3 linked regions of the Homo sapiens genome follow. The protein of the gene in region 1 interacts with the protein of each later gene in a pairwise test. Each region holds a gene or a part of one and is shown in the gene's direction. Other genes may lie near its edges.

What was found.
Region 2: the proteins of DDX19A (region 1) and CTIF interact in binary tests that used the Homo sapiens proteins (3 or more experiments, as listed by UniProt).
Region 3: the proteins of DDX19A (region 1) and MIF4GD interact in binary tests that used the Homo sapiens proteins (3 or more experiments, as listed by UniProt).

Annotation. Positions count from the first base shown.
Region 1 is NC_000016.10:70,354,151-70,366,634, forward strand, and holds part of DDX19A (ATP-dependent RNA helicase DDX19A), read left to right. Parts: intron 1-1,334; coding exon 1,335-1,385; intron 1,386-1,961; coding exon 1,962-2,097; intron 2,098-2,695; exon of another isoform or gene 2,696-2,733; coding exon of another isoform or gene 2,734-2,756; intron 2,757-7,267; coding exon 7,268-7,360; exon of another isoform or gene 7,361-7,486; intron 7,487-10,392; coding exon 10,393-10,495; intron 10,496-10,866; coding exon 10,867-10,981; intron 10,982-11,782; exon of another isoform or gene 11,783-11,861; coding exon of another isoform or gene 11,862-11,934; coding exon 11,935-12,112; intron 12,113-12,473; coding exon 12,474-12,484. UniProt on the Homo sapiens protein: ATP-dependent RNA helicase involved in mRNA export from the nucleus.
Region 2 is NC_000018.10:48,755,489-48,767,972, forward strand, and holds part of CTIF (CBP80/20-dependent translation initiation factor), read left to right. Parts: intron 1-2,430; coding exon 2,431-2,917; coding exon of another isoform or gene 2,918-2,923; intron 2,924-5,901; coding exon 5,902-6,201; intron 6,202-6,207; exon of another isoform or gene 6,208-12,484. UniProt on the Homo sapiens protein: Specifically required for the pioneer round of mRNA translation mediated by the cap-binding complex (CBC), that takes place during or right after mRNA export via the nuclear pore complex (NPC).
Region 3 is NC_000017.11:75,263,129-75,270,256, reverse strand, and holds the end of MIF4GD (MIF4G domain-containing protein), read left to right. Parts: intron 1-11; 5' UTR 12-61; coding exon 62-143; intron 144-787; coding exon of another isoform or gene 788-910; intron 911-2,064; coding exon 2,065-2,174; intron 2,175-2,355; coding exon 2,356-2,511; intron 2,512-2,626; coding exon 2,627-2,719; coding exon of another isoform or gene 2,720-2,806; intron 2,807-3,289; coding exon 3,290-3,517; 3' UTR 3,518-4,029; downstream 4,030-7,128. Other genes in the region: MRPS7 (small ribosomal subunit protein uS7m), read right to left, coding at 4,334-4,555, 6,750-6,917. UniProt on the Homo sapiens protein: Functions in replication-dependent translation of histone mRNAs which differ from other eukaryotic mRNAs in that they do not end with a poly-A tail but a stem-loop. May participate in circularizing those mRNAs specifically enhancing their translation.

The DNA of each region.
Region 1 (12,484 bases):
TTTTCTTTTTTTGAGACGGAGCTTTGCTCTTGTTGCCCAGGCTGGAGTGCAATGGCGTAATCTCAGCTCACTGCAACCTCCGCCTCCCAGGTTCAAGCGATTCTCCTGCCTCAGCCTTCCCGAATAGCTGGGATTACAGGCATGCGCCACCACACCCAGCTAATTTTGTATTTTTTAGTAGAGACAGGTTTTCTCCATGTTGGTCAGGCTGGTCTCAAACTCCCGACCTCAGGTGATCCACCCGCCTCAGCCTCCCAAAGTGCTGGAATTACAGGCATGAGCCGCTGTGCCCAGCCACCAATTAATATTTCCATCAGCAAGAATGAGAGTGTTTCCCTACAATCTCATCACAGAATTAATAGTCAAACTTTTAGAATTTGCCAATCTGATAGGTAAAAAATGGTAGACTATGTTTGCTAATAAGGCTGTATTTTAAAGTAGGGCTAGTAAGAGGTAACATATTCTGATCTGTCTGAAATTAGTCAAAATTTCTAGAAATTTAAAATTTTTCACCAGGTATAGTAGTTCATGCCAGTAATCCTAGTGCTTTGGGAGGCCAAGGCAGGAGGATTACTTGAGGCCAGGAATTTGAGAACAGGCTGGGCAACATGGCAAGACTCCATCTCTACGAAAATATTTTTGTTTTAAATTAGCTGGGAATAGTGGTGCATGCCTGTAGTGCTAGCTACTCAGGAGGTTAAGGCAGGAGGATGTGGTGGCATGCACCTGTAGTCCCAGCTAAGTGGGAGCCTGGGGTGGGAGGATCACTTCAGCTCAGGAGGTTGAGGTTGTAGTGAGCTATGATTGCACCACTGCACCTTAGCCTGGGCAACAGAGGGAGACCCTGTCTCAAAAAAAAAAAAATTTCTAGAAATAAAAATTCACTAAACATAAAGAAATGCCAACTATTTATATTTTGATTACTTAAAATAACTTTTCAGGCTGGACGCTGTGGCTCACGCCTGTAATCCCAGCACTTTGGGAGGCCAAGGTGGGCGGATCACTTGATCGAGGTCAGGAGTTCAAGACCATCCTGGCCAACGTGGTGAAACCCCGTCTCTACTAAAATTACATAAATTAGCCAGGCATGGTGGTGCGTGCCTAATCCCAGCTACTCAGGCGGCTGAGGCGGGAGAATTGCTTGAACCCAGGAGGTGGAGGTTGCAGTGAGCCAAGGTTGCGCCATTGCACTCCAGCCTTGGGCTACAAGAGGAAAACTCCGTCTGAAAAATAAAAAAATAAAATAAATTTCAGTGTATTTATTTATATTGTCCCACATTTTTGGTGGTTCTCATATTTGCCTTTCTAATTATGACAATTGTTTTCTTGTGTAGGTATTATCAAAACCAGTACCACTGCCGAGAAAACAGATGAAGAGGAGAAAGGTAACTACTTTTGGATGCCCTTGGCAAGAGACGGTATGACCCAGGGCTTGCCTTCCTGGAGCCAGGGGCACTCCAAGCTACAAGATCCAGGAGATGAGAGGAATCAGAGAAGGAATAGTCAGTGAGAGGAGGAGAACAAAACAAGTCCGAAAGCGGTAGCTCACACCTGTAATCCCAGCACTTTGGGAGGCCGAGGTGGGAGGATTCCTTTGGGCCAGGAGTTCAAGACCAGCCTGGGCAACATACTGAGACCCCATCTCTACAAAAGATTTCAAAATGAGCTGGGTGTGGTAGCACACACCTGTACTCCCAGCTACTTGGGAGGCTGAGGTGGGACGATTGCCAGAGCCCAGGAATTCTAGACTACAGTGAGCTCTGATTGCTCCACTGCACTCCAGCCTGGGTGACAGCAAGACCCCATCTCTAAAATAAATAAATAGAGACCTATCAGTGTGATGGTTTTTCTCCAGCCGTGCTTGACTGCCCAGGTGCTAGTGTGGAGAGGGAGAAAGAGTGGCTTCATAAGCCTGGGGTTTGCCAGATGAGTATGAAGATCTACTGGTTTCTTCCTGACAGAGGACAGAGCTGCCCAGTCCTTACTCAACAAGCTGATCAGAAGCAACCTTGTTGATAACACAAACCAAGTGGAAGTCCTGCAACGGGATCCAAACTCCCCTCTGTACTCGGTGAAGTCGTTTGAAGAGCTTCGGCTGTGAGTATTCGCTCCTTTCAACAGCTCTTCGTTGCCAGTCTCTCCCCACATAAAACTTAGCATCTGAGAGATTCTTGTGAGAATTTTACTTTTAAAAATTTAGTGTATTTTTTCCTTTTTTTTTTCGAGACAGAGTTTCGCTCCTGTTGCCCAGCCTGGAGTGCAATGGCGTGATCTCAGCTCACTGCAGCCTCTGCCTCCCGGGTTCAAGCGATTCTCCTGCCTCAGCCTCCCAAGTAGCTGGGATTACAGGCGCCCACCACCATGTCAAGCTAATTTTTTGTATTTTTAGTAGAGACGGGGTTTCACCATGTTGGCCAGGCTGGTCTTGAACTCCTGACCTCAGGTGATCTGCCTGCCTCGGCCTCTCAAGGTGCTGGGATTACAGGCGTGAGCCACCGTGCCTGGCTATTTTTTTTCTTTGAAAAGAAGTCACATGAATAAGTCACATGATTCAAAAGTCAAAAAGTATGAAAAAATTTGCAGTATTAATCTCCCACCCTTGTGTCCTTGGCTATCCTGTTCTCTTGGTAGGAATTTTTTAATGCTTCAAATTGATTTATCATAGCTAAAAGTCTTATTTCTCTTATACTCTTAGAACTTTCAATAAAATATTGGCTGACAGGTGATTTCTGGATGTCAGGAACATTTCTGATTAGGTAAGCCCTTAAGTGAGAACATGTGCTATTTGTTTTTTTTTTACAAAAAAAAAAAAAAAAGGCCAGGCACAGTGGCTCACACCTGTAATCCCAGCACTTTGGGAGGCCAAGGCAGGCAGATCACAAGGTCAGGAGTTCAAGACCAGCCTGACCAACATGGTGAAACCCTGTCTCCACTAAAAATACAAAACTCAAAACTTAGCCAGGTGTGATATCACAGGCCTGTAATCTCAGCTACTCAGGAGGCGGAGGCTGAGGCAGGAGATCACTTGAACCTGTGAGGCGGAGGTTGCAGTAAGCCAAGTTCGTGCCACTGCACTCCAGCCTGGGCAACAGAGCGAGACTCTCTCTCAAAAAAAAAAAAATATATATATATATATATGTATATTTAGACTATAGGGTTTACAGTCTTACAGTTTATCTGCTTTTTAAAAAATCTGTCAAATCTGTTTTTGGTTTGTTTTTTTTTTTTTTTTTTTTTTTTTTTTTTTTTTTTGAGACCAAGTCGTGCTCTGTTGCACAGGCTAGAGTGCAGTGGCGTGATCTCAGCTCACCACAACCTCCACCTCCCAGGTCCAAGCGATTCTCCTGCCTTAGCCTCCCGAGTTAGCTGGGACTACAGGCGTGTGCCACAACACCCAGCTAATTTTTGTATTTTTAGAAGAGACAGGGTTTCACTATGTTGGGCAGGCTGGTCTCGAATTCCTGATCTCATGATCTGCCCGCCTCGGCCTCCCAAAGTGCTGAGATTACAGGCATGACCCACTGTGCCCGGCCTTACGTTTTAGGTTTACTTCAGTAAATTAATAGAGGATTAAGTGTGGATCATTGTGTTATATACATGCCACTGTGCTGGATGTTACAAGGAACACAAGACCTACTTATTATTCTTGCTGCCTGCCAGGATCACAATCATAGAAAGTAGCTGATGAATAAGAATATGGTGGAATCAATGGATTCTTTGCCTTAGTTCAGCAAAATCTATAGTATGGCCACTATGGACAAATTGAAGCCACATTCCTTCCAGCTATTACCACTGAGAAAGAGACACTTAAAACAAGAAAGCTAACTAGTTGTTAAGTAATCTTGAAGAACAATTTTTTATTTTTATTTTTTATTTCTATTCATTTATTTATTTACTTTTGAGACTGTCTCACTCTGTTGCCCAGGCTGGAGCGCAGTGGCACAATCTTGGCTCACTGCAACCTCTACCTCCCGGGTTCAAGCGATTCTCGTTCCTCAGCCTCTCACGTAGCTGGGATTACAGGCCTGAGCCACCACACCTGGCTAATTTTGGTATTTTTAGTAGAGACAGCGTTTCATCATGTTGGCCAGGCTGGTCTCAAACTCCTGGCCTCAAGCGATCTGCCCGCCTCAACCTCCCAGGCTGCTGGGATTACAGGCATGAGCCACTGCACCCAGCCTTATTTTTTTATTTTTAAAAATAGAGATGTGGTGTCACTGTGTTGGCCAGGTTGCTCCTGAACTCCTGTGGTCAAAGAGTCCTCCTGCCTCAGCCTCCAAAATTGCTAGGATTACAGGTGTGAGCCACTGCACCTGGCCCAATAACTTTTTTTTTTTTTTTTTAATAGGATGAGGTTTTACCATGTTGCCCAGGCCAGACCAAAAATGTATTTTTAAACAGTTATACTTTAGGTCGGGCACGGTGGCTCACGCCTATAATCACAGCACTTTGGGAGGTCAAGGCAGGTGGATTGTCTGAGGTCAGGAGTTCGAGACCAGACTGGTCAAAATGATGAAACCCCATCTCTACTAAAAATACAAAAAAATTAGCCGGCTGTAATGGCACATGGCTTGTAGTCCCGGCTACTCAGGAGGCTGAGGTAGGAGAATTGCTTGAACCCAGGAGGCGGAGGTTGCAGTGAGCCGAGATCATGCCGTTCGTTGCACTCCAGCCTGGGAGATAAAAGCGAAACTCCTTCTCAAACGGAAATTATGCTTTTCTATGTGTTTTCTCTGTCAAGGACTTTATTCACCAAATCTGTCATCTCCACTTTTATTTTTAAGCTGTATCAGGACAGCTAGACATGTGGTATGATTTCCTTAGAGTGACAGTTTGCTCCTCCAAGTATCAACTGCCTTTTTAAATTTCTTCCCTTTAGAAGACGTGAGCTCTCAGTTTAACCACTGATGAATTGTCCTCTGTAAAAGACAGGTTCTCTCTGATTTAGTTGTTGGTAGGAAAAGGAAACAAAGAATGAAACCAAGATCACCTAATGTACTTGGTCTGCTTTGTACCTAAAATATTTGAGTTAATCTGCAAAATCAAAGAAAACTGAGTCAGTGGAAGCTGTTGGATCATTTGAGTCCCAATTAAGGTAGTGACTTTGTTTCCTTGGCAACCAAGTCAGAAGCTGCCGAGTGTCACAGCATTTTCTCCCAAATGGAAGATATGAAAGATTATGTTTTTAAATTTCTTTGTGTCTGAGAACCAACATACGCCAGAGAATTTGCCTTTTAGAGAGCCTGCTAAACTCCAAGGAAGGCTTAGAGAACAGTTGGGTTGCCTTTTCTTTAGAAACAATCTGGTATGATTTTTCTTAAACATCTTGTCAATTTAGAGGTAGCAGAGAGCTGATTGTAAATGCAATGTAAGAGCAACTTAAATTGATAATTCTTGTGTAGCTGTTTACATAAGAAGTTGGTGTCCAGGTGCGGTGGCTCACGCCTGTAATCCCAGCAGTTTGGGAGGCTAAGGTGAGTGGATCTCTTGAGCTCAGAAGTTCATGACCAGCCTGGGCAACATGGTGAAACCTTATCTCTACAAAAAATAAAAAAAAATTAGCCGGGTGTGGTGGCATGTGCCTGCAGCCCCAGCTACTCAAGGGTGGGAGGATCTCTTGAGGCCTGGGAGGTGTCGGTTGCAGTGAGCCCAGTTCACACAACTGCACTCCAGCCTGGGCGACAGAGTGAGAACGTCTCTCAGAAAGAAGTAGTTAGTGTTTGTCTGTTTATTTTGATTAGACCTAAGTGAATCTGAGCATTTGTAAAGTTTAGTAGGTTAATCGAACCACCTTTATTTACTGTATATCAGCTACTAGAAACTGGCTTCATCAATTTTCTTTTTTTATGGCCGGGCGCTACAGCTCACGCCTGTAATCCTAGCACTTTGGGAGGCCGAGGCAGGTGGATCACCTGAGATTAGGAGTTCAAGACCAGCCTGGCCAACATGGCGAAACCCTGTTTCTACTAAAAATACAAAAATTAGCCAGGTGTGGCAGTATGCGCCTGTAATCCTAGCTCCTCAGAAGGCTGAGGTAGGAGACTCGCTTGAACCCAGGAGGCAGAGGTTGCAGTGAGCCAAGATCACGCTATTGCACTCTAGCTTGAGCAACAGAGCAAGACTCCATCTCAAAAAAAAAAATTTTTTTTTTCTTTTTTCTTTCTTTCTTTCTTTTTTTTTTTTTTTTTAAGAGATGACCTGGCCTTGTTGCCCAGCCCAGAGTGCAGCGGGGCAATCATGGCTCGCTATAGTCTCTAACTCTTAGCCTCAGGCAATCCTCCTGCCTCAATCTCCCAAGTAGCTAGGACTACAGGTGCATGCCACCATGCCCAGCTCATTTTTCTTTTTTGTTTTGTTTTGTTTTGTTTTGTTTTAGAGACAGGGTCTCACTGTGTTGCCCAGGCCGGTCTTGAACGCCTGGACTCCTCAAGCAGTCGTCCCACCTAGGCCTCCCAAAGTGCTGGGATTACAGGCGTGAGCTACCACGCCCAGCCCATCAATTTCCTTACCTATTGATTGTCTGGAGTATTTGCATAGCTGGCTTTGGAAGGAACATGGAACAAAAGGACTTCTAAATCTTAGCAGTATAGTAAATAGTGTTTATTTTCATTTATTATTTACTTTAGAGTCCCACTCTGTCACCCTGGTTGGAGTGCAGTGGCTCAGTCACAGATCACTGCAGCCTTGACCTCCTGAGCTCAAGTGAGCCTCCCACCTCAGCCTCTTGAGTAACTGGGACTACAGGTGTGTCCAGCTATTTTTTGTATTTTTTTGTAGAGACGAGGTATCACCATGTTGCCCAGGCTGTTCTCGAACTTCTGGCCTCAAGCAGTTGGCCTGCCTTGACCTCCCAAAGTGCTGAGATTACAGGCATGAGTCACTGTACCTGACCTGTTTTTAGATATATCTTTTATAATTTATGTAATGCTATGAATTAATAACCACCACCCTTGCTGTGTCCAGGGAACACTTGTCTTCCAAGGCCAGCCAGATTTGCGGGTCTGCTGAAAGCATTAATTTCTCTAAGAAAAGAAACCATTCTGTATTTTATGAATTATAGAATAGTTGCAGATTAAGATTCCTTAGGGAAGGGCGGTAGCTTGGTTTGATTTGGTTTGGTTTTTGACAGTGTTTTTTTAAGGCATAGGAAAATACGTCTGACAGAGGTAGGAGGCATCATTCCTTTCTATAGAAAAAGATAAGATTCTAGGCCTCTAAAACAATTCTAACTTCTAGGCATCCATCCTCTGTCTTCCTGGCTTCCTAGGAAACCACAGCTTCTCCAGGGAGTCTATGCCATGGGCTTCAATCGACCCTCCAAGATACAAGAGAACGCATTACCCATGATGCTTGCTGAACCGTGAGTATGCAGATGAAGCGCATCTCACCCAGTGTGATTAGATCAATCTTCCCCAAACTGCGTTTTTGTGCCTGAGAACAGAAGGAGCTGTTTGGGGCCACGTGTTTCCTCAGGAATACAGCTTAGGCAAGTGCAGAGAGAATCGGATGGAGTTAGCTACAGTTTCTGCCTTTCCCACTTAACAATAGAAACTTATAGAGAAAGGTAGTGCTTTATTCCATGCTATCTTAAAAACTGGGCTTAAGGCCGGGCATGGTGGCTCACTCCTGTAATCCTAGCACTTTGGGAGGCCGAGGCGGGCGGATCACCTGAGGTCAGGAGATTGAGTCCAGCCTGGCCAACATGGCAAAACCCTGTCTCTACTAAAAATACAAAATTAGCTGGGCACGGTGGCCCAAACCTGTAATCCTAGCACTTTGGGAGGCCAAGGTGGGCGGATTGCCTGAGCTCAGTAATTCGAGACCAGCCTGGGCAACATGGTGAAACCCCGTCTTACTAAAATCAAAAAAAAAAAAATATCCAGGCCTGTTGGCATGTGCCTGTAGTCCCAGCTACTCAGGAGGCTAAGGCAGGAGAATTGCTTGAACCCGGGAGGCAGAGGTTGCAGTGAGCCGAGATGGTGCCACTGTACTCTAGCCTGGTGACAGCAAGACCCTGTCTCAAAAAAAAAAAAAAACTAAACTAAAAATACAACAATTAGCCTGGCATGGTGGCACGTACCTGTGGTCATGTAGCTGAGGCAGGAGAATTGCTTGAACCCCAGAGGCAGAGGTTGCAGTGAGCCGAGACATGCCACTGCACTCTAGCCTGGGAAACATAGACTCTGTCTCAAAAAAAAAAAAAAAAAAAAAACTGGGTTTAAAAAATATTATTTTGATGTGAATGGTGTTGCAATAAATTCAAAAACAAACAAAATATTATTTGGAAATTTTTGAGACCTACACAAAGGTGTAAAGAACAATACCAAGAACACCTCTGTAGCCCTATCCTGCCAAGAAAGGAAGCAGGTCCAGTTGATAGTTGAAGCCCCTGAATTCCCCTCCTTCCACATCCTTCTCCCACCCTGACAAGACTAAGTTCCTTTTGAGACAGGGTCTCATTCTGTTTCCCCATCTAGAGTGCAGTGGTGCAATTACAGCCCACTGCAGCCTCGACCTCCTGGGCTTAATTAATCCTCTCACCTCAGCCTCCGGAGTAGCTGGGACTATAGGCATGTGCCACCATGCCCAGCTGACTTTAAAAAAACTTTTTTGTAGTTTGAGAAGCTGAGGCAGGTGGATCACTTGAGGTCAGGAGTTTGAGACCAGCCTGGCCAACATGGTGAAACCCCGTCTCTACAAAAAATACAAAAAAATTAGCCGGGCTTGGTGGCGCACACCTGTAATCCCAGCTGCTAGGGAGGCTGAGGTGGGAGGATCGCTTGAACCCAGGAAACAGAGGTTGCAATGAGCCAAGATTACACCATTGCACTCCAGCCTGGGCGACAGAGTAAGACTCTGTCTCAAAAAAAAAAAAAAAATTTGTAGAGACAGGGTATCACTATGTTGCCAGGGCTGGTCTCAAACTCCTGGCCTCAAGTGATTCTCCAGCCTCAGCCTCCCAAAGTGTTGGGATTATAGGCATGTGTTACTGCACCTGGCATATTTATCATTTTTTCTTTTTTGAGATGGAGTCTCCTCTGTCGCCCAGGCTGGAGTGCAGTGGTGCAATCTTGGCTCATTTCAACCTCTGCCTTCCAGGTTCAAGTGATTCTCCTGCCTCAGCCTCCTGAGTAGCTAGGATTACAGGCGCACACCACCACACCTGGCTAATTTTTGTATTTTTTTGTCTGTTCGTTTGTTTTTGGGATGAAGTCTCGCTCTGTTGCCCAGGCTGGAGTGCAATGGCGCGGTCTCAGCTCACCGCAACCTTCGCCTCCCGGGTTCAAGTGATTCTCCTGGCTCAGCTTCCCGAGTAGCTGGGATTACAGGTGCCTGCCACCATGCCTGGCTAATTTTTGTATTTTTAGTAGAGATGGGGTTTTACCACGTTGGCCAGGCTGGTCTCGAACTGCTGACCTCGTGATCTGCCTGGCTCAGCCTCCCAAAGTGCTGGGATTACAGGCGTGAGCCACCGCACCCAGCCTAATTTTTGTATTTTTAATGGAGGTGGGGTTTCACCATGTTGGCCAGGCTGGTGTCGAACTCCTGACCTCAAGTGATCTGCCCACCTTAGTTTATTTATTTATTTATTTATTTATTTTTTTGTGAGATGGAGTCTCGCTCTGTCGCCCAGGCTGGAATGCAGTGGCGCAACGTCTGCTCACTGCAAGCTCCGCCTCCCAGGTTCATGCCATTCTCCTGCCTCAACCTTCCCAGTAGCTGAGACTACAGGTACCCGCCACCACGCCCGGCTAATTTTTTATATTTTTAGTAGAGACGGGGTTTCATTGTGTTAGCCAGGGTGGTCTCGATCTCCTGATCTTGTGATCCGCCTGCCTCGGCCTCCCAAAGTGCTGGGATGACAGGCGTAAGCCATATTTATCTTTTTTAATGACAACCATGCCACCTATTCCCATGATGCTGGGTCCCATAAAATGGAATGTAAAAGTTCCCTCTAAAACATCCACCTGACTTAGCATCTTGTCCATAAAACTGGGGAAAGGCACACACAGAAGGAACCAAATTCTGGGAATGCATCATGGCTCAGCCAAAAATATTGCTGGGGTCTTGTCTGGGCACAGATCTTACTCTGCACACTTGATTTCCCTGTGCCCCTTGGGGTGCAAAACTGGGGTCCTTTAGCTGTGCTAGAGGCTAGAATGAGAATTTCTTGGTGTGAGCCCATTTAAAATAATCATTTATTTTACAATTTAAGCAGCTTTTTAACAGCGTATAAAAAAATGTATGAAAGTAATTTGTGCTCAATGGAGAAAACCTGGGTAATATAGAGAAGCACGAAGGGGGAAATATGCCTTTCATTCAGAAAGAACATTTTGACATGTTACTGAGTTTCACCAATTTAAGTTTCATTTCTGTTCTTCCTTGATCCAGCCCACAGAATCTGATTGCCCAGTCTCAGTCTGGCACTGGTAAAACAGCTGCCTTTGTCTTAGCCATGCTCAGCCGAGTGGAGCCATCAGACAGATACCCCCAGGTGAGGGCTTGCGGGGCTGGGTGTCCTAGGTTGCCTGCCCTGGGGAGCGCAGTGCCATCTGGTGAGGAGTAACGAGAGGTCTGAAGCTTCTGACACCTTAGGCTGTGGCTCAGGCAGAGCAAGTTCCTACACCAGGCCCTGACCTGGGAGAATGTGCTTGAAAGCAGCAGCCTTAGACCATGGCTTGCAAAGGCCTCTGCCAAGCCAGGGCTACCTGCTGCAGGCTTCAGTCTATGGCTGAAAGGTGGGCCTGGATGGGAGGACATGCTTCCCTGTGCTATTCAAGTGCTAATAACATCAGCATACTGGGTGCCTTCAGGTCTGTTACCAAATGGCTCTCCTAAACTCATCCTTTATGATTTTTCTGTCAGTGTCTGTGCCTCTCCCCAACATATGAGCTGGCGCTTCAAACAGGAAAAGTGATTGAGCAGATGGGCAAATTTTACCCAGAACTGAAGCTTGCCTATGCCGTTCGAGGCAATAAATGTGAGTACGGCAGGCGACAACTGAACAGTGAGCAGGGTAGGGGGTTGGGCGTTTGAATTTTGAAGATGCGATGACCGTATTCAACTTTCTAATTCAGTCTGACCCTGGAGCCTAACTGTGTTGCTCTATTTGAATCTATTTGAATACCTGCTAATTTGTTAACAGTCTTTTTCAGTCTTAAAATAAGATTTTCGGTTGATTAAAAAAAAAAATCCACGCATGGCTCACAGAGTTCTTAATATCTAGAGTTCTTCGCTCAGAAGGTAGAGTTTTGAATTTAGCGTCCAGAGTTCTGGGACCTGCTACCAAAGAGGGATTAACAGGACTGAGGATGGAAGGTTGGGGTCAGCTCCCTTTCTTTAAAAGTAAGCAAAACCAGGTACAGTGGCTCACACCTGCAATCCCAGCCCTTTGGGAGGCCAGGGTGGGAGGACTGCTTGAGCACATGGTTCGAGACCAGCCTGGGCAACATAGTAAGACAAAAAATAAAAAAAAAAAAATAGCCAAGCGTGGAAGTGCCAGCTTGTAGTCCCAGCTACTTGGGAGGCTGAGGCAGGAGGATCGCTTGAACCTGTGTGGTCAAAGCTGCAGTGAGCCATGACTGTGTCACCGCACTCTAGTCTGGGCAACAGAGTGAGACCCTGTCTCAAAATAAATAAATAAATAAACATAAAAAGAGTTGGATGATGTTGGATTATAGGAGGAAGAAGAAGGGAACTGATGCTTATTGAAGGATTGCTGTGTGGGATTTGATCCTGACCACAGTGCACTGAGATAGGTGTCATTCTGCCCACTTCACAGCAGAAGAGACCAAGACTGAGGGGAACACTCATGTGTGTTTTGAAATCTGGAAATAACTTGTTCTCCTAGTCCTAGAAGGATGGGCAGGGCTTTGATTTCCAGAGCTGGCTTTGCCTTTGAAATACCTATGAAAATCACCTGGGTCTCCACAGTGGAAAGAGGCCAGAAGATCAGTGAGCAGATTGTCATTGGCACCCCTGGGACCGTGCTGGACTGGTGCTCCAAGCTCAAGTTCATTGATCCCAAGAAAATCAAGGTGTTTGTTCTGGATGAGGCTGATGTCATGATAGCCACTCAGGGCCACCAAGATCAGAGCATCCGCATCCAGAGGTAGGGATCTCGAGGGTGGGGGACTCCTCAGACTCCCCATCTGCAGTGTCTTCTCCCTTCACTTCAGACGCCTCCTCTGGCTTCTGCCTGGGTCTTGGCTCTCGTACTCTCAGCAGCATTTGTTTGACGGGCCATTTCCATGTCAGCGCTGATCACAGTCCCTCCCAACCTGGGTTGAGAAAGGAGACCTAGGGACTCTTCCCCAACCCTTGTCCCCATCCCAGGCCTGCTGCTCCTCCTCCCCAAGATGCTCCTCCCCCATCAGCCTTCCTGGGCATCTAGACCCTCCCAGCTGGGGAGGCTGTGCTTCCGTTGCTTCCCAGGGCCACCTGGGGCCATCTACCCGGGCCTTCCCTTGCAGGATGCTGCCCA
Region 2 (12,484 bases), on another chromosome or scaffold:
ACTCAAGGGCCCCACTTTTCTCATGGGGCCCAACTCTTCTCCAGGTGCTGGTGCTGATAGCTCCTACCTGCCATGGGGAGTGAAACTGAATATTTCAGCAATGCCAGTGAGGAGGGGGGTGTGTTTGGGAATGGAGGGGCTGCCTCTCCCACCCAAGTGTCAAGGCAACAGTGCTTTTGCCCAGGAATGTATATCAGAAACCAACAAGATTGAACTTGGACACCAAGGATGAAAAATGCCACACAGGCCTCCTGAGAAGGGCCCAGGGTATGCCTAGTCAGCAGGATTCAGTTCAGGGTACCAGATTTTTACAGATATTTTAATAATGACTCTTAAATTATTGAAATAAATATAGACAACCCCAAACCTTGGACACTGTATATAAAAAGAAACCTAAGAAGACTCTGAAAGGTAGAAAGAAGACAGACAGGCCAGGGACCTTGGGAACTGAAGAATGACACACTGGTGAGTTCCTGGGGTTTTCCTCTTGGCTCAGATATCCCAGACTTGGAGCTAAAGAAACTGGAGACCCAGAAACACCATGAGGCCTGAGCAGACAAACGGAGCCCCAACAAAAGTCCACTCTTTCTAGCCAGAGGACCAGGGAAGGGGCAGCCTAGCAAGACAGAAAACTCGAGACAGTAGCTACTTTCCTCCAGCCAAACACCTCTGCAGGAACTGTAGCCACACCCCCACCCACCACTCCAGCGGAGGCCCAATGAGGGGCCTAGACAGTGACAAGGTACCCAGCACCCCAACAGGGTGGTGTCAAAGGGACTGTCATCCCCATTGGGGATAATGAGCTACTAAGCTTTTCAATGGAGGCTTTTCAGTGAAAAAAAAAATTTTATTCATTTTAGTGGAAAAAAATAATGCATTTAACCCCAACCCAGGATACCCTCAATTTTTCACAGATAAAAATGTATCAAGTAAATATTAAAATTGAATTTATATAAGTAATAAGCAATAAGTTGTAAGTAAATAAATACAATTTGTTCATAACATGCAATGCAATGAAGGTCTGTGGTACCCAAGATAGGTCACGGAGGAGGTGCAGCGCTTATTCTTTAGAAGCTAACATTATCTTTCTGCAAAATCTTTCCACTATTTTACAACCTTTGCAGAATTCATGCTTATCTTGTGCTCCAACTGCACTTCCAGTAAAGTTGTGGCATGGAAAACACCCTGAGGGTAAAATGGAGTTTGAACATAGTAGTGCTTTCAGTGGCAGGAAGCAGCCTTTGAGCCAGCCAGAAGGGTCATGAGAATGTCCCTCACCACCCCTTCACTTGCCTTTTGGCCACAACTCAAAAGTTTGGGGTTTGTTCCTGCTGCACAACTCACACCTGTTCCCTGTGCTTAGAAAGTGTTGTCAGATGAGCCTGTCTTGACCTACACCCATCATGTTAAATATTCCTTCTGTATCTGTTTGCTAGGTTGCTGTAACAGAGTACCACTGACTGGGCTGCATAAACAAGAGGCATTTTATTTTCTGACACTTCTGGAGGCTGGAAGTCCAAGATGAAGGTGTCGGTGGGGTTGGTTTCTTCTGAGGCCTGTCTCCTTGGTTTGCAGATGGTCACCTTCTTGCTGTGTCTCCATGTGGTCTTTCTTCTGGGCATGCAGCCTCCCTGGTGTCTCTGTGTGTCAAAGGTTCCTCTTGTTATAAGGCCATTAGTCAGTTCAGATTAGGGCCCATCCTAACAGCCTCGTTTAATTTAATCACCTCTTTAAAGGTGATCCATCATGTCTTATCTCCAAATACAGTCACATTCTGAAGTATTGGGGGTTAAGGCTTCAACATATGAAGTTTTGCGGGGTGGATGGGGGACACAATTTAGCCCATGAAAACTTGTTATAGCATATGTAGTTTGTGGGTTTGGGGGTGAAAATGACAATGTTCCAAAAAAAAAAAAGTTGTTTGAAAGGGATATAACTTTTCAAAAAACATTATGGTGAACAGTCATTCATAGGAAGGTGCTTGTAAGAAGCAGGTCTGCGTATGCATCTTTGCTGGTACATGCATAGAATATGTCTGGAAGATTCACACACGTGGAACGGCTGCTTCCAAAGGCCATATGTGATGACAGAGTCAGAGGCAGGAGGGTTCACTGTTATCTGCTACTGGATCTTTTTAATTTTGTTCCACATGCTTGCATTCACACATATTCTAGTAAGCGAATAAAGTACTGATTTTAAGGAAAGAATTGGCTTTGGTCCTCTGCAGTAGCAAGGACCGGTCTGCCTGTTCTCGGCTGTATCCCCAGGGGCTGTCACAGACTCTGGCACGTAGAAGGTGCTCAGGAAGTGTTTGTTGGAAGAATGAATATATGGACAAGGCAATGACTTCCTGTTCTGGCGGCTGGGCACAGGGACTCTGACCAGCCCGCCCAGTGATCGCCTTCTCTGTCTTTCCTCTTCCGTTTGCAGGCGGCAGCAGAGACCTCCGGGGGGCAACAAGCCCCAACAGCATGGTGACCACCAGCCAGGCAGTGCCAAACACAACAGGGACCACCAGAAATCCTACCAGGGGGGCTCAGCACCCCACCCCTCAGGGAGGCCCACTCACCATGGCTACAGCCAGAACCGGCGCTGGCACCATGGCAACATGAAGCACCCACCAGGCGACAAGGGGGAGGCAGGCGCACACCGCAATGCCAAAGAGACCATGACCATCGAGAACCCAAAACTGGAGGACACTGCAGGGGACACCGGGCACAGCAGCCTTGAGGCCCCCCGCAGCCCTGACACCCTGGCCCCGGTGGCTTCTGAGCGGCTGCCCCCACAGCAGTCAGGGGGGCCAGAGGTTGAGACAAAACGTAAAGACAGTATTCTTCCCGAGCGCATCGGGGAGCGGCCCAAAATTACCCTGCTCCAGTCTTCCAAAGACAGACTGCGGCGAAGGCTAAAGGAAAAGGTACCGGTAATTGAATTTTTGTTCTTCTCTTGCACCAGGGAGGACAGCAAGAGGTAGGCACTTTGGTAGGTGGGCACAGTGCAGAGCCTTGTGGGTTTGAGGGTCTAGGGAGCCATGTACAGGGAAGCAGGGGCTTCGGTCACTGTGGGGACCAACCACACTGGTCCACCACTGCCAGCAGGTAGGGCCATCATGAACCCCTCCAGCACACTTGGGCTTTTCACCTTCCAAACTCCAAGAGGCCCAGGGTGGGCACTTGGAACCAGCCCCCAGCCCAAGGGAGTAGGGGGAAGAGATGCATGCCTGGGAGTGATGGGGGAGGTGCAGGGAGCATATTCTAGGGTTAGATATTGTTTGTGCTGAAGAGCACTTGGGGAAACATGGAGCTTATGAAATAAGAACTGAAGCTTTTCTACAGGTGAGTACCATCCAGGCAGTGGTCTCTGCCAGAATGGGGAGCAGAGGTGAGTTGTTCAGAGTGGGGGCAGGCTGATTCCAGCCTTCCTGTTTCCCGCCTTCATCACCCAGAGGCCAGGGAGTGCTCTACAGTGCACACCGTAAGGTGGCTCCATTCTCAGCATCACGCAGGTGCCTACCTGTGCCAGCATGAACCCGAGAGTGAGGCCTCCTTACTTTTGCTCCCAGGAGGCTCTTTCTGCACCCTGGTCCTGGCCTGGCCTGTAGCTTCAGGAGATGACCCTAAACCTCCAGAAGAGGGATGGGGATTTGTACTTGCAGCAGTAAGTCCATTGTGCTCACCCCAGTGCCACCACCCCCGACCCCACTGCCCAGCAGGGGCACAGGAAAGGTCACCCTGGAGAGGAACTGTCCCAAGAAAGGCCAACTTGCCCACAGCCATTCCCACACAGCAGCAGGGCCTACAGAGGCTTCCTCCTGGGGCTTCCGCAGAGCTCCATGTTCTGGGCTTCTCCTCCATCCTCCCCTACTGCCGACTCTCCTCAAGCTCTTGCCCCAGAGGCCAGGCCCAGGGTCCACACTCAGGCAGGATAAGGCAGGTCAGACCTCTTCTTGGATCCACTCTTGAAGATGAGATGCTGCTCCCAGTATCCTCTCCACCGAGTCCTCTAGAGTTCTGCTAAATGTAACTGCAGGGCAGCAGAGTGGAAACAGCACGGGCTTTAGAGCGCAGCTGAGCAGGCTCAGACCTCACTTTGCCTTTGACTGGATGGGTGGTCTTGGGCAAGTCACCTAATCTCCCTGAGCCCCAGTTACTCATCTGTAAAATGGGTGTTAATACTACACACCTTGCTGAGAGACTGTGAAGGTTAAATGAAATAACGTGTACAGATATGTTCTTGTGGGTATTCCTATTCTATATGCAGACCACTGTTCCTGCCCTGGGGCCCAGATGGTCGGAAGAGAGGGGTACATGGGGGAATGGAACAGAGAAGGTAGATCTATAGCACCTATAGATCAGTTTCAAGGACTCCACTCAGGTGAGGCCTCCTGAACTCCTGGACCAAGAAGACATGGGCTCAGGCTCAGGCTGGGTCACTCCCCACTCTGCTAGTTGCTCACTCTAAAAAAGGGTAAATCCTAGGTGGCCAACCAGCCACATCCTAAACATTTTCATCAGGGAGAGCAACACTTTCCTTCTCTCTTTCAAGAGACAGGTAAAGCGTGAGATGTCTCTTGGGGTGGGGATTTGTGTCCTGTTAACTTTACCCAGGGACTCAGAGTAGCCTTCCCTGAAGAGGTGGTTGGGTTTGAGGAGAAGAACTAGGCCACCCTATTCCTTCACCCAGGATTCAGCCCTTTCTTTTTTTTTTTTTTTTTTTTGAGATGGAGTCTCGCTCTGTCACCCAGGCTGGAGTGCAGTGGCCCAATCTCGGCTCACTGCAAGCTCCGCCTCCCGGGTTCATGCCATTCTCCTGCCTCAGCCTCCTGAGTGTTTGGTTCTCAAGCCAGAGACTAGCTGCCCTTGGAACTTGATCCCACCATGGAAGGGCTCAAGGAAAGCTATAGATTTTCTCGTCTAACCTCACTGTGTTACCTATGAGGAAACTGAGGCCCAGAGAGTGAAATCACTTACCCAAAGCCACACAGCTAGAGGCAGAGAGTGGGATCTAGAGCCTTGGTCTGTGCCTTCTAGGCCAGAGCTTCTATTGTCAGGGACAGAAGACCAAGCTTGGATCTCATTTCATGACCCTGACCCTGCCCTTCCAGCCAGATCTCACTTCCTTGCAGTTAAGTTGTTCCCATTCTTGGCCACCAAGAATGAGTCAATACAATAAGATGACATTTTTTTCTTCTTCAAGCCCCTGGTCTGGTCCTAGTTGCAGTGAAATCTCATAAGGCTGTAGGGCTTTTTACTTGTAATATCCCTCCTAGAAGCCCAACTGTTTTAGTGGCACATGGGAGGATTCCTTGGTGTGTGGCATATGTCTACAGAAGACCAGCACAGTCTCCACAGGACAAAAAGCCAGGGCTGTGCCCACAGGGGGCCCTATGCCCAGAGAACAAGTCATCATTGGGCATTTGGAGCTGAGGGTGTAGGGGACAAGGTGGCCACTGCCTGGGCCGCTTTTAACCACCACTGCAGGCATTTTGGATCTGACCTGCCTTCCTGACCAAGTCTTCCTACCCTCATTTTCTCTTTGGCCCGATTTCATATTTGTTATCTTATTTCCTCTTTCATAATTTCCATTAAATCTTTTCTAGATTAAGATATTTGATGGACAAATAAACAAAAAAAGCCAATGTATATGAGAATCCTGGGTAGGAGCTAGAACCCAAAAACAGTATCAGCCCTGGATGTCATAGGGGCCAAGAAAAAAGGCAACAAGGAGCTTTTGGCGCATGAGGGGTCTTTGGTGGAGGTTCCCAGAGGGACCAGCCCTCAGATCCAGGGAAGTAGGCCTGGTCCTGCTTTCTGGGGGTGGCCACCCTCTTTCCACCAGGCCACCCCTGCACAGAGACCTCGGCTTCACTCAGGCACATTCATTTGTCTCCGACACCCCCAGGATGAAGTGGCCGTGGAGACGACCACTCCCCAGCAGAACAAGATGGACAAGCTGATCGAGATCCTGAACAGCATGCGGAACAACAGCAGCGACGTGGACACCAAGCTCACCACCTTCATGGAGGAGGCCCAGAACTCCACCAACTCCGAGGAGATGCTGGGCGAGATCGTGCGCACAATCTACCAGAAGGCTGTGTCCGACCGCAGCTTCGCCTTCACCGCTGCCAAGCTCTGCGACAAGATGGCGCTCTTTATGGTGGAGGGGACCAAGTTCCGGAGCCTGCTCCTCAACATGCTGCAGGTAACTGGACGCCGGCCACCACCGCCCCGCGCCCCCTGCCCCTCTGCGTTCGGTGAGTTATTCCTAGCGAGAAGGCTGCGAGTTCTGGCCACAGTTGGACTTTTCCCAAGTTCCGCCCTTGCCCGATTAATTATAGAAAACACAAAGGCAGTTAAGGGGCCAGGAATGAGCGGCTGGATTTGTGTGTGTTTATGTGTGGGCTCCCTGGTTACAATGGACCAATATAATTTTATAGGTGCTTTATGTTTAACCAGCCTTTCCCACTTTCTATTTTCATAAGAGGCTGGCTCTTGGTCTCAACCTGGCTATGTGCTTTGACCTCTCTACATCCAAGCAGACATGAACTTGCTGTGGACTTCTCTTTTCCTCCTCCTTCCACCCAGGGCTAGGTCCTTAGACCTTTGCAGATATGCAGTTGATCATCACTGGTAGTGAGATGGGTTTGAGTAAAGCCACACATGAGCAGAAAAGGGATAGTCTGTTTACCAACACACTATGGCTCCTGGGCAGAGGGAAGTCACGGTGATGCAAGACTGTCTTCATCCTTGCTCTTTCCCTCTTAATATCCCTTCACCTCTGACAGTGTAACCCCACCCCTGATCATTGCTTCCTCCATGAAGGCCCACGTCCAGTGGTTCTATCAGCATGAGTGTGTCGTGGGAGTAGGCGCGTGCACTTGGACGGAGCTTAGCAATGTTTCATCTCACAAGTACCTGCTTGCCTGTATGGGCAGTAGCAGATGAGCTGGTGGCCCCAAAACTGGTGACGTCAGGGAGAGATAGCAGGGTCATGGGATGGTGGCCACATCAGGTCCTGGGACTGTCCTTGGAGACTCTTGGCTGGGGGAGAGCCATGTCTCCTTTCCTCCTATTTTGTATTTTAGAGACTAGTTAAGATACAAAGTGAGTTTCTGGTCCAGATGAGATAAAATGGTAGTTTCCAAGTAATGAAGTAGAATGGCAGGCTATAGGGCCATCTTAACTAGGGTGACCATACAATAGATCATCCAAACTGCAACACTTGTGAAAGTCAAAGGGGGTTCAGTTCATAATTATGCCTAGACAACAGGTGTAAACAAGGGCATATGGCCACCCTCACCTTAACCATGTGGTTCGCAGTCTGCCGTCTTCCCTAAAAGCTGGGAGGAAGTTGCCGCTAAGGCCACCTCTACATGCAGCCGGCAGGGCTCCATCCCCACCCACCCTCTCCTCTGCATGTGAGTTGCACTCACTGCAACATGAGCCCTCCCTGGCCAGCCTGGGCTGCTTCTCTCCTGCTCCAGGCCCTGATCAGGTTCCCATTCCTGGATCGCCCGCACTCCCCTGGTGACGAATTCCCGCATTACCTGAGGGATTTGCACATGGGGCATGTTCCTCGCGGGCCGGAATGTCCTGGGAGCGTGTGGAGAGTGGCGGGCAGAGAAGCCTGTCTGCCAGAGAGCACCCGGCACAGGGGAGTCAGGGACAGCATCAGCCTATGGTCTCGGCTTTGGGTTTTGTTTTTCAAAAAAGGGCCAGGATGGGGCAAGAGTTCTAGACAGTGGTTGCCAGCTCCAAGTAACCCAGCCAGACCCGGTGGCAGACAGGCACCCAGGGCATGGGGCACTTGGGGAGGGCAGCTGGCTGCAGGGGCCATCTCAGATCGGGTATTTCTTCCAACCTGCCGTGGTAAGGGTGGCCTCACCCACAAGTGTCCAGCGGACCATCAATCCTGGGGAACAGTCAGCCACAAAGGGGGCCCTATGGCCCCTGCACTCACCTCTCAATCAACCACAACGTGCACTGGTTTAGGACAGGCTCCAGATGTCCCAGCAGGAAGGGAACCTGTTTGGCTCCGTTTAACTCAACAAAGTCCTCTGCATTCCCCAGTTAAGAACTACTTGTGGGATTAGTGTGCTGAGAGACAGTTTGGCAAACACTACAGCAGGGAAGAAAACACAAAATTGAAAGCTGGGAAGCAAGGATTCCAGACCTGATTCGTTTGTCATCCGTTGGAGCTTGGCCTCTATAGTTCCCTGGGAAAGTGCAAGCAACAGCCTTCATCAGTGTACCCTCGATTTTGCACTACTGGAGATGAGCCGGGGTCTCGGGCAGGGGCACGAGGGACCCCGTGTGAGCCTTTCCCTTTCTCATGCTCCTGAGGCCTTGCCACTAGTAGGAAACTGTCCTGGGTCCCCCTGAGTCCTCACAAACCCACTCACCCCATATAGTGGCTCCATAGTAGGTCTGTCATGAGTGATGCAGGCTTTGGGACCAGCCCAAGAGACCTAGTTCTGCAGGTGCCACCTTGTCTCTGGAGCAGAGAACTGGCACTCCACATCCTGCTCCCCACCCCCCATCAGCCAGGCTGAACCTCCCAGTACACCCTGCATGGACGAACTCTCCCCCAGAATTCACTTCTCTGTCCCACTCTGAGCATGCACCTCCCCCTGAAGCATCTCACACTCCTACTTCAGGTGGTGCTAGGGCCCCACTTTCCAGGAAACACTGGCCCTTCTCCTGTCCCAGCACCTCTCATCCTGCAGCCACAATGTTCAGTCACCCTCCTAGTATTCACTGAGTATTTCTAGTGTGCCAGGCACCAGCCTGGGGACTGAGGATACAGCAGTCAGTCACTGGGCACAGCTTTGTCCTTAAAAGGTTTGCAGTGAAGGAGTTGAACTTAAACCAATGGCCACATGAATCCACAGTGACAAACTGGGGTGCGTGCCGTTACTGCCCCCCATCTTGGGCTCTGGGAGGTGGGAACCCCTCTACTTTCTGCACCTCTGTATCCCAGGGGCTGCATAGTGCCTGGTGCTGGAGGGCCCTCGGTCGTCAAGGAGAAATGGATGTCTGAAAAGGAAGGCGCTGGAAGCCTCCCTTCTCCCGGGCTAGGGGCCTGCAGGGACAGCTGAAGTCCAGGGCAAGAAGGGAACCCCCCACCCAAGGCAGTCATGGCTCACATTCTGAGGTTTCAGAGCAGCTCCTCCTCTCCTCCCCCACAGTGGAGGAAGCCAGCCATTTGCCTGGGTGGAGTATCTGCGGGTCAGGTCTTTAGAAATCTAAATGTCCACATAGGCCACCACTCACCCCTGTTTACCACCTGCAGTCCCAGCTTTCATGTGAGCCGAGGAGGGAGCCCCTTGAGAGTATAACCAGAGGCTTGATCTGCGTTCTCAGACCTCCTGGGTGGCTAGACAAGGCCCTTTCAGCTGCCATGGGAAGGCGGGTGGACTGTGCTGGTGCGGGGCTGCCCTGATCCCACAATGGCCCCCTGACTCCAAGGCCCAGAGGACACCTGAACCACATCTGGCTGAGCCTCCTCAGGCCCTGTGCCTTCTCTCTGCAGCCAAGGAGACAGAGGTGGAGTGGGCTTTTCTGGACAGCATAATTCATGGCCCCTCACCACCCAAACCCGAGAGGTGCAAGAAAAGAAAGCGATGGGCTGGGCTCAGCAAAACCTGCTTTCCCTCTTAACACCTCCAGGGATGTCTTTTTTCACCTGACTTCATTTTCTGGCAAACTATGTTTGCATCCCTTCCTGGCAGGCAGTTCTAGACCCGGCCTGCACAGCCCTGCCCCCTGCTTCCTCCCTGAGGTTTGCACTCAGCTCCATCCACTCAAGGCCCATCTGGCTCTCGGTCCCCAACCAGCACCTGGTTGGGTTTGGCAGCCTCCGAGATGCCCCCATAGGATCAGGTTCAGCTACCACTTCCACACACAAGTTCTGGGCCCCGGCTTAGCAATGCAGGCTACAAAGGGGCCAGGGTGTGAAGTGCCTCCTTAGCACAGCTCCCAGCAGTGGTCTTTACACTTGGTTCTCCCTGGCTGACTTCTCTTGCTGCCAGGGCTTCAGTGATGGGAGCCGGCAGCATGGAGGGAGAGGGGCAACCGCAGATGTGGTAAACATTCTGCAGCAGAGGTCTGAGGGCTCTTGCCAAGCTGGGGTGCAGCCCCCATGGAGTGGGAAGTGCAGGGTGGGAGAAGGGAGAAGGTTTAAGGTCCTTTAACCCTTCCCAGCCAGACTCAACACTGCTATCTCAAGGAACCCAGAAGCACCATTCTCATGAGCCATGACAGTGCTGGAGACCTTGGGGTCTCAGAGGACCCCGTCACCAATCCCACAGCTCCAAAATGGTCTTCAGTTTTTACATCCAAGCCAATTCCTTTTTACCTGAAATGTGGCCCTTTTATTAGTAGTGTCCTTGTAAGTAAAATTCTATTTATTAAACAGACATTTCTTTTTTTTTTTACTTTTTATTTTATTTTATTTTTTAATCATTTTTTCTTTTTTTTATATACTTTAAGTTTTAGGGTACATGTGCACAACATGCAGGTTAGTTACATATGTATACATGTGCCATGTTGGTGTGCTGCACCCATTAACTCGTCATTTAACATTAGGTATATCTCCTAATGCTATCCCTCCCCCCTCCCCCCACCCCACAACAAAACAGACATTTCTTAATGTGCCAAGCATGTTGTCTTTATTAGGTCAGGGGTTCTCAAACCGGAATGTGCATATGAATCACGTGGGATTTTGTTTAAATGCAGATTCTGATGCAAGAGGCCTGGGATGGGCTTGAGATTCTGCGTTTCAAACATGCTCCTGGTAGATGCTAGTGCTCTAGTCCAGGGACCACAGTGGGAAGTCACAAGGCATTGAATGACTGATGGTTTGTAGGTGGTGGCTCTGTTTCATAGATGGGCAAACTAAGGCACAGTCTGTCATCAGTGTGATGGTCAGAGTGGAGGTCTGGCCTGGGAATATTGCATTTCAGATACTGGCTCTTCTTTAGGTCAGTGGTTCTCAGCCTCGCTATGCATGAGAATCATGAGAACACAGCAGGCAGGGGGCCTACCCCTAATCAGTTGAATTAGATTCTCCAAGGACGCAACCTGGGCATTCGTTAGCCAGGGTGGAACACCACTGTTGAGGAGACACCCCAGAGACACCGAACTGGTTCATCGCGGCCACTTATGAATCAGCTGGCTCTGCCTGTCATGCCGCGAACCAGTCAAGAAATACCTGCCAGGTGTTGGGCTCTCTGCTGAGCCATGGGGGAAAACTCCGAGTCTGAGCTGGCAGGAGAACCCCATTACACAGGAGGCCTCAGCTGCTGAGAACATGCCTTCCACTCCCCCAGCCTCAGGCTCTTCTTGTCATCACCCTGAACCTCCTCCTTGATGAGATGAAAGCCACCTCTTCTCTCCCGCTGCCTCCATTTCTCTCTGTCCTCAGCTCCTTTTCCCATTTTCCTTTTCCTTGGCCTGGGATGTGTGTCGGAACAGCTATCACATGTTTTAGGAAAAGGGCCTCATTCTCACCCACGGTGCCAGGCTGTACCAGAGGCTGGGCCACACTTCGCAGTTCAGCCTGTCTCCCCATACACCTTCCCACCAAGGTTCCCAACTTCTCTGGCTTTGCAGGGTCCTGACTGCAGACTAGACTGACTAACTAGATGATGTGCATTGATTGTTTCCGACTTCCAGGAGAATGTGGGGTGCCCAGGGTGCCTGGGTTAGAGAAGGAACCAAAAGTTTCCTTGGATCCTCATCAGGGAATTGTGGTGTGATACAGGGCGGTGAAGGGGCTCCAGTTTCACAGAGAAGTGAAGAACGAGTGTGCCTCTTTTTATGGGACCTTTGGAATGACAGGAATGGAAGCCTGAGCCCTCTCCACCCAGCACTGCCCTGTCACTGCCCCGGGACGTCCACGTGGGCTCTGGGAATGCTCCTTTGCTGAGACAGGCTTGGGTAGTACAAGTTCAAGCCCTCCTCTGTTGAAATGTGTGTGCTCTGTTTAGCCAAGAGGTGTCTGCATCCGAGCTATGCAGAGCAAAGTATTATTAGAGCCGGCATCAGTGTGTCTGTAACTGAACCCAGCTCTCCCTAGCAACCGTTGCCAACAACACATCTAACAGAAGGATGCGATACCTTTTTTTGAAAAAAAAAAGTTTGTCTCAACCAAGTCATAAACACAGCAGGCCTGTTGTGAAAAGACAACACAAAATCAGAATCTGGTGTGTGACCAGATTTCAAAATAAATTGCTCTTCTCTAGCACCTTCTAGAAGACAGCCTGTTAAAAAGCTGACCTTGAGCTAAAGAGCGGAGAAACTCTTCAGAGTTTCTGGCTGGGTCATCATCAAGCATTGTGTTTTGGGCTTTTCATACATAGACGCTCAGTTGAGTGGTGACTCTGTGGGATCTCTGGGAATGACTTTAGCACAGAAGGGGCACTCAAGATTTTCTGGCTTGGCTTTCCTTATCAGTGAATCTCTCAAGTGTGAGACAAGCCTGA
Region 3 (7,128 bases), on another chromosome or scaffold:
CTTCTCCTCAGGTGCTGTCCTTATTCCCAGCCCAGTCAAGAGCTACCGGGGCTGGCTAGTCATGGGGGAGCCCAGTAGAGAGGAGTATAAAATCCAGTCCTTTGATGCAGAGACCCAGCAGCTGCTGAAGACAGCACTCAAAGGTGAGCACGGGACCCCTCCTGAGCTGGGGTCAGGAGCTACAGAGAAGGGCCCCTGTGGGCAGCACCAGAGGCTGAGCCTGGTGAATGCCTCCACCCCTCCCCTCATTCTCTGACGATAGGAGTCGGCAACGTAATTCTTGAACTGGAAGACAAGCTACATTGAGGCCATTATTTTGGAGTATGAATCACAGTCACCTCTCAGACTGTAAAGACTGTTTTAAAAGTTTAACCATAGGGCTAGGCGCAGTGGCTCATGTCTGTAGTTCCAGCACTTTGGAAAGCCAAGGTGGGCAGATTGCTTGAGTCCAGGAGTTCAAGACCAGTCCCGGAAACATGGTGTAAACCCCATCTCTACAAAAAAAAAAAAAAAAAGAAAGAAAAGAAAAATTAGCCGGGCATAGTGGCAGGCACCTGTGGTCCCAGCTACTTAAGATGCTGAGGTGGGAGGATTGATTGAGCCTGGGAGGGTGAGGGTGCCATGAGCCATGATCCTGCCACTGCACTCCAGCCTGGCTACAGAGCGAGACCCTGTCTCAAAAAAAAAAAAAAAAAAAAAAAAAAAAAAGTTTAACCATAAAAAAAAGAACACGGCTCCTGCCCTTGAAGCGCTTACATTTGAATTGCTGGTTTCTGTGCTGCCATAGCCCCGTCTCTTGAATGCACAGTTGCCTGCTTTGAGACAGAAGATGGAGAATATTCCGTTTGCCAGAGGAGCTATAGTAATTGCTCTCGCCTGATGCCTTCCCGCTGTAACACGCAGTACAGAGGTTTGTCTTCAACTAATAATTAGCAACACCCATCATGTGTCAAGCCGAGCCTGTTGGGAGGCCCTATGTGGCCCTCTCTTGTTGGGGGTTTGCATGTGTGTAGTATAAGAACACTTTTTCTTGTGAAATTGCTGTTGGAGGCATGTCCTGGTCAGTATTCCTTCCTCAACCTAGTGCCAGGAAAAGATGTGTTTCCTGAGAAACTACATTCTTACTTTGATTGGTCCCTACTAGCCACATAACCCTCCCCATTTTCTCTGACTGGGCAACCAGAAGACAAGACAGCTAAAGCTGTTTGTATGGTTACTGTCCTCTGTACGGTTTCTTTTCCCTTTTTTTTTTTTGAGACAGTTTCGCTCTTCTTGCCCAAGCTGGAGTGCAATGGCACGATCTTGGCTCACTGCAACCTCCGCCTCCCAGGTTCAAGCAATTTTCCTGCCTCAGCCTCCCAAGTAGCTGGGGTTACAGGGGCCCGCCACCGTGCCCAGCTTATTTTTTGTATTTTTGTAGAGACGGGGTTTCATCATGTTGGCCAGGCTGGTCTTGACCTCCTGATCCTGACCTCAGGTGATCCACCCGCCTCAGCCTCTCAAAGTGCTGGGATTACAGGCATGAGCCACCACACCAGGCCCTCTGTATGATTTCTTTTATTTTTTTCTTTTTTTTTTTTTTTTTGAGACGGAGTCTTGCTTTGTCGCCCAGGCTGGAGTGCAATAGCATGATCTCGGCTCACTGCAACCTCCGCCTCCCAGGTCCAAGCGATTCTCCTGCCCTAGCCTCCCAAGTAGCTTGGATGACATGAGATGACGCACGAGCCACCACACCTGGCTAATTTTTGTATTTTTGGTAGAGATGGGGTTTCACCATGTTAGCCAGGCTGGTCTCAAACTCCTGACCCCAGGTGATCCAACCACCTCGGTCTCCCAAAGCGTTGGGATTACAGGCATGAGCCACTGCGCCCGGCCATGATTTCTTATAAGTACCATGCGCTAACCAATTGCACCACTGGAGCCACTGTCCTCTGTATGATTTCTGATCTCTTTCACTTCAAGCATATGAGTGCTCTACTGTAAATATCTCAAATTCTTAGAAGCGGGTGGACACAAATGTGATAAAGCAGCAGCTCTAGACTCCCCTCCTATCTCTACCCCTAGATCCGGGTGCTGTGGACTTGGAGAAAGTGGCCAATGTGATTGTGGACCATTCTCTGCAGGACTGTGTGTTCAGCAAGGAAGCAGGACGCATGTGCTACGCCATCATTCAGGTTGGGGGTTGGGAGAGGAAAGGAAGCTGCTTTGAGGAAGGTGCTTCAGGAGTGGGCAGAAGGCCTGGCCTGCAGGACAGAGATGCACAGGGTCTAGCTCAAAGAGAGAGAGAGGCATAGGATGGGTGGGGTTACAGGGGCACCGCCCCCCACCCTTCACCTTCCTCTCCCTGGCTCACAGGCAGAGAGTAAACAAGCAGGCCAGAGTGTCTTCCGACGTGGACTCCTCAACCGGCTGCAGCAGGAGTACCAGGCTCGGGAGCAGCTGCGAGCACGCTCCCTGCAGGGCTGGGTCTGCTATGTCACCTTTATCTGCAACATCTTTGACTACCTGAGGGTGAGGCCCCGGCAGCCACCCTGGGAGGCAGACATGGCCTGTTTCCTGAGGCCCAGGTTGGACTGCTCCCCTTGGCCACTAAGCCTGGTGCTCTGACCCCTCCTCTTCCTCACAGGTGAACAACATGCCCATGATGGCCCTGGTGAACCCTGTCTATGACTGCCTCTTCCGGCTGGCCCAGCCAGACAGTTTGAGCAAGGAGGAGGAGGTGGGTGGCCCCAGCCCTGGCACAAGCACAGAAGGCTGCAGGATGGACAGTCCAGCTCAGCCGTGTGTCAGCCCACTGCTCACGGAGGTCTCTGAGGACTGTGTCACTTCTGGGGCAGGACTGTGGGGGTGTTTAAGGCCTGTCAGTTATAGGACAAGCTGCCAGGTCTGGAGTTTATCCAATAGAGAGCAGCCAAAACCTACTGGCTCAGTAGCTTCCTTCTCAGTCAGAAAGCCAACGTATGATGGCAGCTGTGCAAGCCATGGCTAGCTGTGGGTACAGACGGCCCCAAAGCCAAACCAGGGTCAGGCAGTGTGTGGGAGGCAGGAGAGTGGGATGAAGAAGTGGTTTGGAGACAGGCTTGAGTGGAGCCTGGCCAGATGAGGGACCTCAGGCAAGTCCCGGAACTCATTTCTTTCTGTGTAAGATGTGGAAGTACCCACTGGATGGTAAGGAGGGAGCAAGGGAATGAGTGTAAAGGCAAAGCACAGCACCTGGCACTTGGCAAATGCTGTGTGAGAGGCTGGCACTGCCCCAGTTCACTTGTGTTACCCACACTGTCGCCTGCAGGTGGACTGTTTGGTGCTGCAGCTGCACCGGGTTGGGGAGCAGCTGGAGAAAATGAATGGGCAGCGCATGGATGAGCTCTTTGTGCTGATCCGGGATGGCTTCCTGCTCCCAACTGGCCTCAGCTCCCTGGCCCAGCTGCTGCTGCTGGAGATCATTGAGTTCCGGGCGGCCGGCTGGAAGACAACGCCAGCTGCCCACAAGTATTACTACAGCGAAGTCTCCGACTAGGCCTCCAGATCAGGGCTTCCTCACCAGCACTGGCCTTTCTTCTACCCACCTCTAAAGCTGGCAGTGGAGTCTCTGCCTCACCCAAAGACTTTTCCCTTCCAGACTTTGAGTGTCTTCCCTTCTAGACTTTCCCATCTCCTGGTGAGATGTTTCCCACTTATGCCGTGGTCCTGCCCTGAGCCCCTTTCCCCACCACAACCCACCACGGCCAGGCAGAGAAGGGCAACTCCCAAGAGCCACTGCACTGTGTAACCATTAGTGCAACTACTACCTTGGTGCCTCAGTTTACCCATCTGTAAAATGGGTAAGCATAGCCACTGGTGGGATATTTTGGGATGTCAAGGGGTGGAGGCAGAGCACAAGTCACACCAGAAACTGCTTTTTATACATTTTGTATAAGGACAACTCTGGAAACAAGCCTATTTCCTCCAGCCAGTTTCACTGAATGCTGCACCACATGCTACACCAGTTCAGCGTGAGAATTTTCTAATAAATCTTTTCTGATACTAAAACTGCTTCCTTTATATATCCAAAGGTCCGCCCCAACCTAAGGGAAGAGAAAACAGCCCTGAGTTTCCTGGAGGAAATTCCCAAGTCAATGTGCTCCCTCTTTACAAGGAAATAGGGGCAGAGAGAGCAAGTTCCAGCCTCAAAGAAAGAAGGATTAACGGATAGTGAATATGCTGCTACATCTTTCTTACGAGGCCTGCCCACCCTTACAAAGGAACTACATCCTTAACCCACAGGTAGTTTTCAGCGTGGCAGTAGCTCACACTGTTTCTTGCGGCAGAGGGCCCTGGGCTCCTCCTGGAGACTCTACCACCAGCGGTAGTGGGCCAGGGCACGGTTGGCCTCTGCCATCTTGTGCAAGTCATGCTTCCTCTTGATCACGGGGCCCTGGTTATGGAAAGCCTCCAGCAGCTTGTGTGACAGCTTCTCCGGCATCAGTGTCCGCTGGTGCTTTTTATCCCGGCACTCAGTGATCATCCACTTCATGGCTAGGAAGCGGCGACGCCGGTCGGGTAGGGGTACAGGGACCTGGGTGAGACAGGACATAGGCAAGTTGGTCCAAGAGTCTGCCAGGGTTTGGGGCCTCCTGCCTCCCTGAATTCTAAGGAGTAGCCACATGTTCCCTCTGGACCAGCCCTGGTCAGGCCTGGGGAGAAGGGCCTGTCTTTTCTTCGAGCTTCCCTCACCTTCAGGTGACCCCAGTGTAGCAGACATAAGAGGCGTTCATTCAGCAAATACTAATTAAGCACTGGCCTCTCCCGGCACTGTGGTTCACACCTGTAATCCCAGCACTTTGGGAGGCTGAGGCAGGAGGATCGCTTGAGCCCAGGAGTTCAAGACCAGCCTCGTCAATATAACAAGACCCTGTCTCCATATATTAAAAAAAAAAGAAGGCCAGGCACGATGGTTCACGCCTGTAATTCCAGCACTTTGGGAGGCTGAGGCAGGTGGATTACCTGAGGTCAGGATTTCGACACCAGCCTGGCCAATGTGGTGAAACCTCGTCTCTACTAAAATGCAAAAATTAGCTGGGCGTGGTGGCAGGCGCCTGTAATCCCAGCTACTTGGGAGGCTGAGGTAGAAATGCTTGAACCCAGGAGACGGAGGTTGCAGTGAGCCAAGAATGCACCACTGCACTCCAGCCTGGGCAACAGAGCGAGACTTCGTCTCAAAAAAAAAGAAAAAGAAAAAGAAGAAAAGCACTGGCCATTTTCCCTCCTAAATGGTAGTCCTACCAAGTTGTTATAAGAACCAAATAGGAAAAGCCCCATTAGCTGGGGTGACTAATCCACCTCAGACCATAGGTACCTAAAAACAAGACCCCTTCAGTCTTCAGACACAGCAAAACCCTGTCTCTACTAAAAATACAAAAAAATTAGCTGGGCATGGTGGCGGCCACCTGTAATCCCAGCTACTTGGGGTGGGCAGGGACTGAGACAGGAGAATCTCTTGAACCCGGGAGGCGGAGGCTGCAGTGAGCCGAGAGCTGAGATTACAGCACTGCACTCCAGTCTGGGCAACAAAAGCGAAACTCCATCTCAAAAAAAAAAAAAAAAGTTAAAAACAAAAAGACCCTATACAAACAGTTAAAGAAAACCAAAAACAAGACCCCGTGTCCAAAAATCATTTGTCAGGCCCTCACTATGCGTCAGTACCATGCCAGACACGAGAGTGCAGACAATAATGAAGTCCCTACCCCATGGAGTTGATATTGAAAAAGGAGAACACAAGAAAACTCAGGACAATAAAATATAATTAAATGCTATGAAAGAGATACCTAGTACTGTTCAGCAAACACTGATGAAGCATCAGTTATCGGTCAAGCACTATGCCAAACACTGGCATACAAAGACAGGATATGAATAGTCCCTCGCCATGAGAATTTTACAGGTTAGGACACACAGGATGCTTGACAGAAGAAGGCGAAGGGAGGTGGGCTCCCAGATGTCACTTAGATACTTCTTCACTCTCTTCCACCTTCTGCCTATAATTTTTACGCTACAGGACTCAGATGAGTGGACCGTAACAGTCTCAATTCTTTTTTTTTTTTTTTTTTTGAGATGGCGTCTTGCTCTGTTGCCAGGCTGGAGTGCGGTGGTGTGCTCTCGGCTCACTGCAACCTCTGCATCCTGGGTTCAAGCGATTCTCCTGCTTCAGCCTCCCAAGTAGCTGGGACTACTGGTATGTGCCACCACACCTGGCTAATTTTGTATTGTTAGTAGAAACAGGGTTTCTCCTTGTTGATCTCGAACTCCCCACCTCAGGTAATCCATCCACCTCGGCCTCCCAAAGTGCTGGGATTACAGGTGTGAGCCACCGTGCCCAGCCGTTTTTTTTTTTTTTTTTTCTGAGACAAGGTTTCTCTCTCTTGCCCAGGCTGGAATGCAGGGGCGTAATCATAACTCACTGCAGCCTTGACCTCCTGGACTCAAGTGATCCTCCTACCTCAGCCTCCTGAGTAGTTGGGAGCACAGATGCACACCACCACACCTGGCTAATTTTTTTGTTTTTTTTGTAGAGACGGGATCTCCCTATGTTGCCCTGCTGTCTCTTAACTCCTGAGCTCAAGCTATCCTGCATTAGGCTCCCAAAGTGCTGAGATTACAGGTGCAATCCCACTGCACCAGCTAGAAAGCTATCAATCTTGACCCAACTCCCAAGCACCACCTATCTTGTTTCACATGTGGAGGGCCCTGCTTTCTTGCCCTGGCCATTCATTCACCTGGTAGAAACGGCCTCCCTTGAGGATGGGTACCAGCCCAATCATAGGCTCACAGTTTTTCAGTGCTTGATGGAAGATGGTGTAGGGGTTGCGTTCGATGGTTGCCTGTTCCTCTGCAGAAGCGGCATGGTACTTCTCAAACTGCTTCCTTTTCACAGCTTCCAGAGTCTGCAAAAGAATATGGTGGAAGAGGCTGCCCCAGGCTCCCTAAAGGGTTTACCCAGCCAAGCTAGTACCTTGCCCTTTACTCCCATCCTCTGGTTCTGCGCTGGCAATGCAGCTCCTCTCACAGCACATCCAAAACAAAGTTTTTAAGTGCCTCCCCCTTTGCTAGACTAGGACAGAAAGAGTGGATTGAGATTTGTGGCATGGAGGGGGT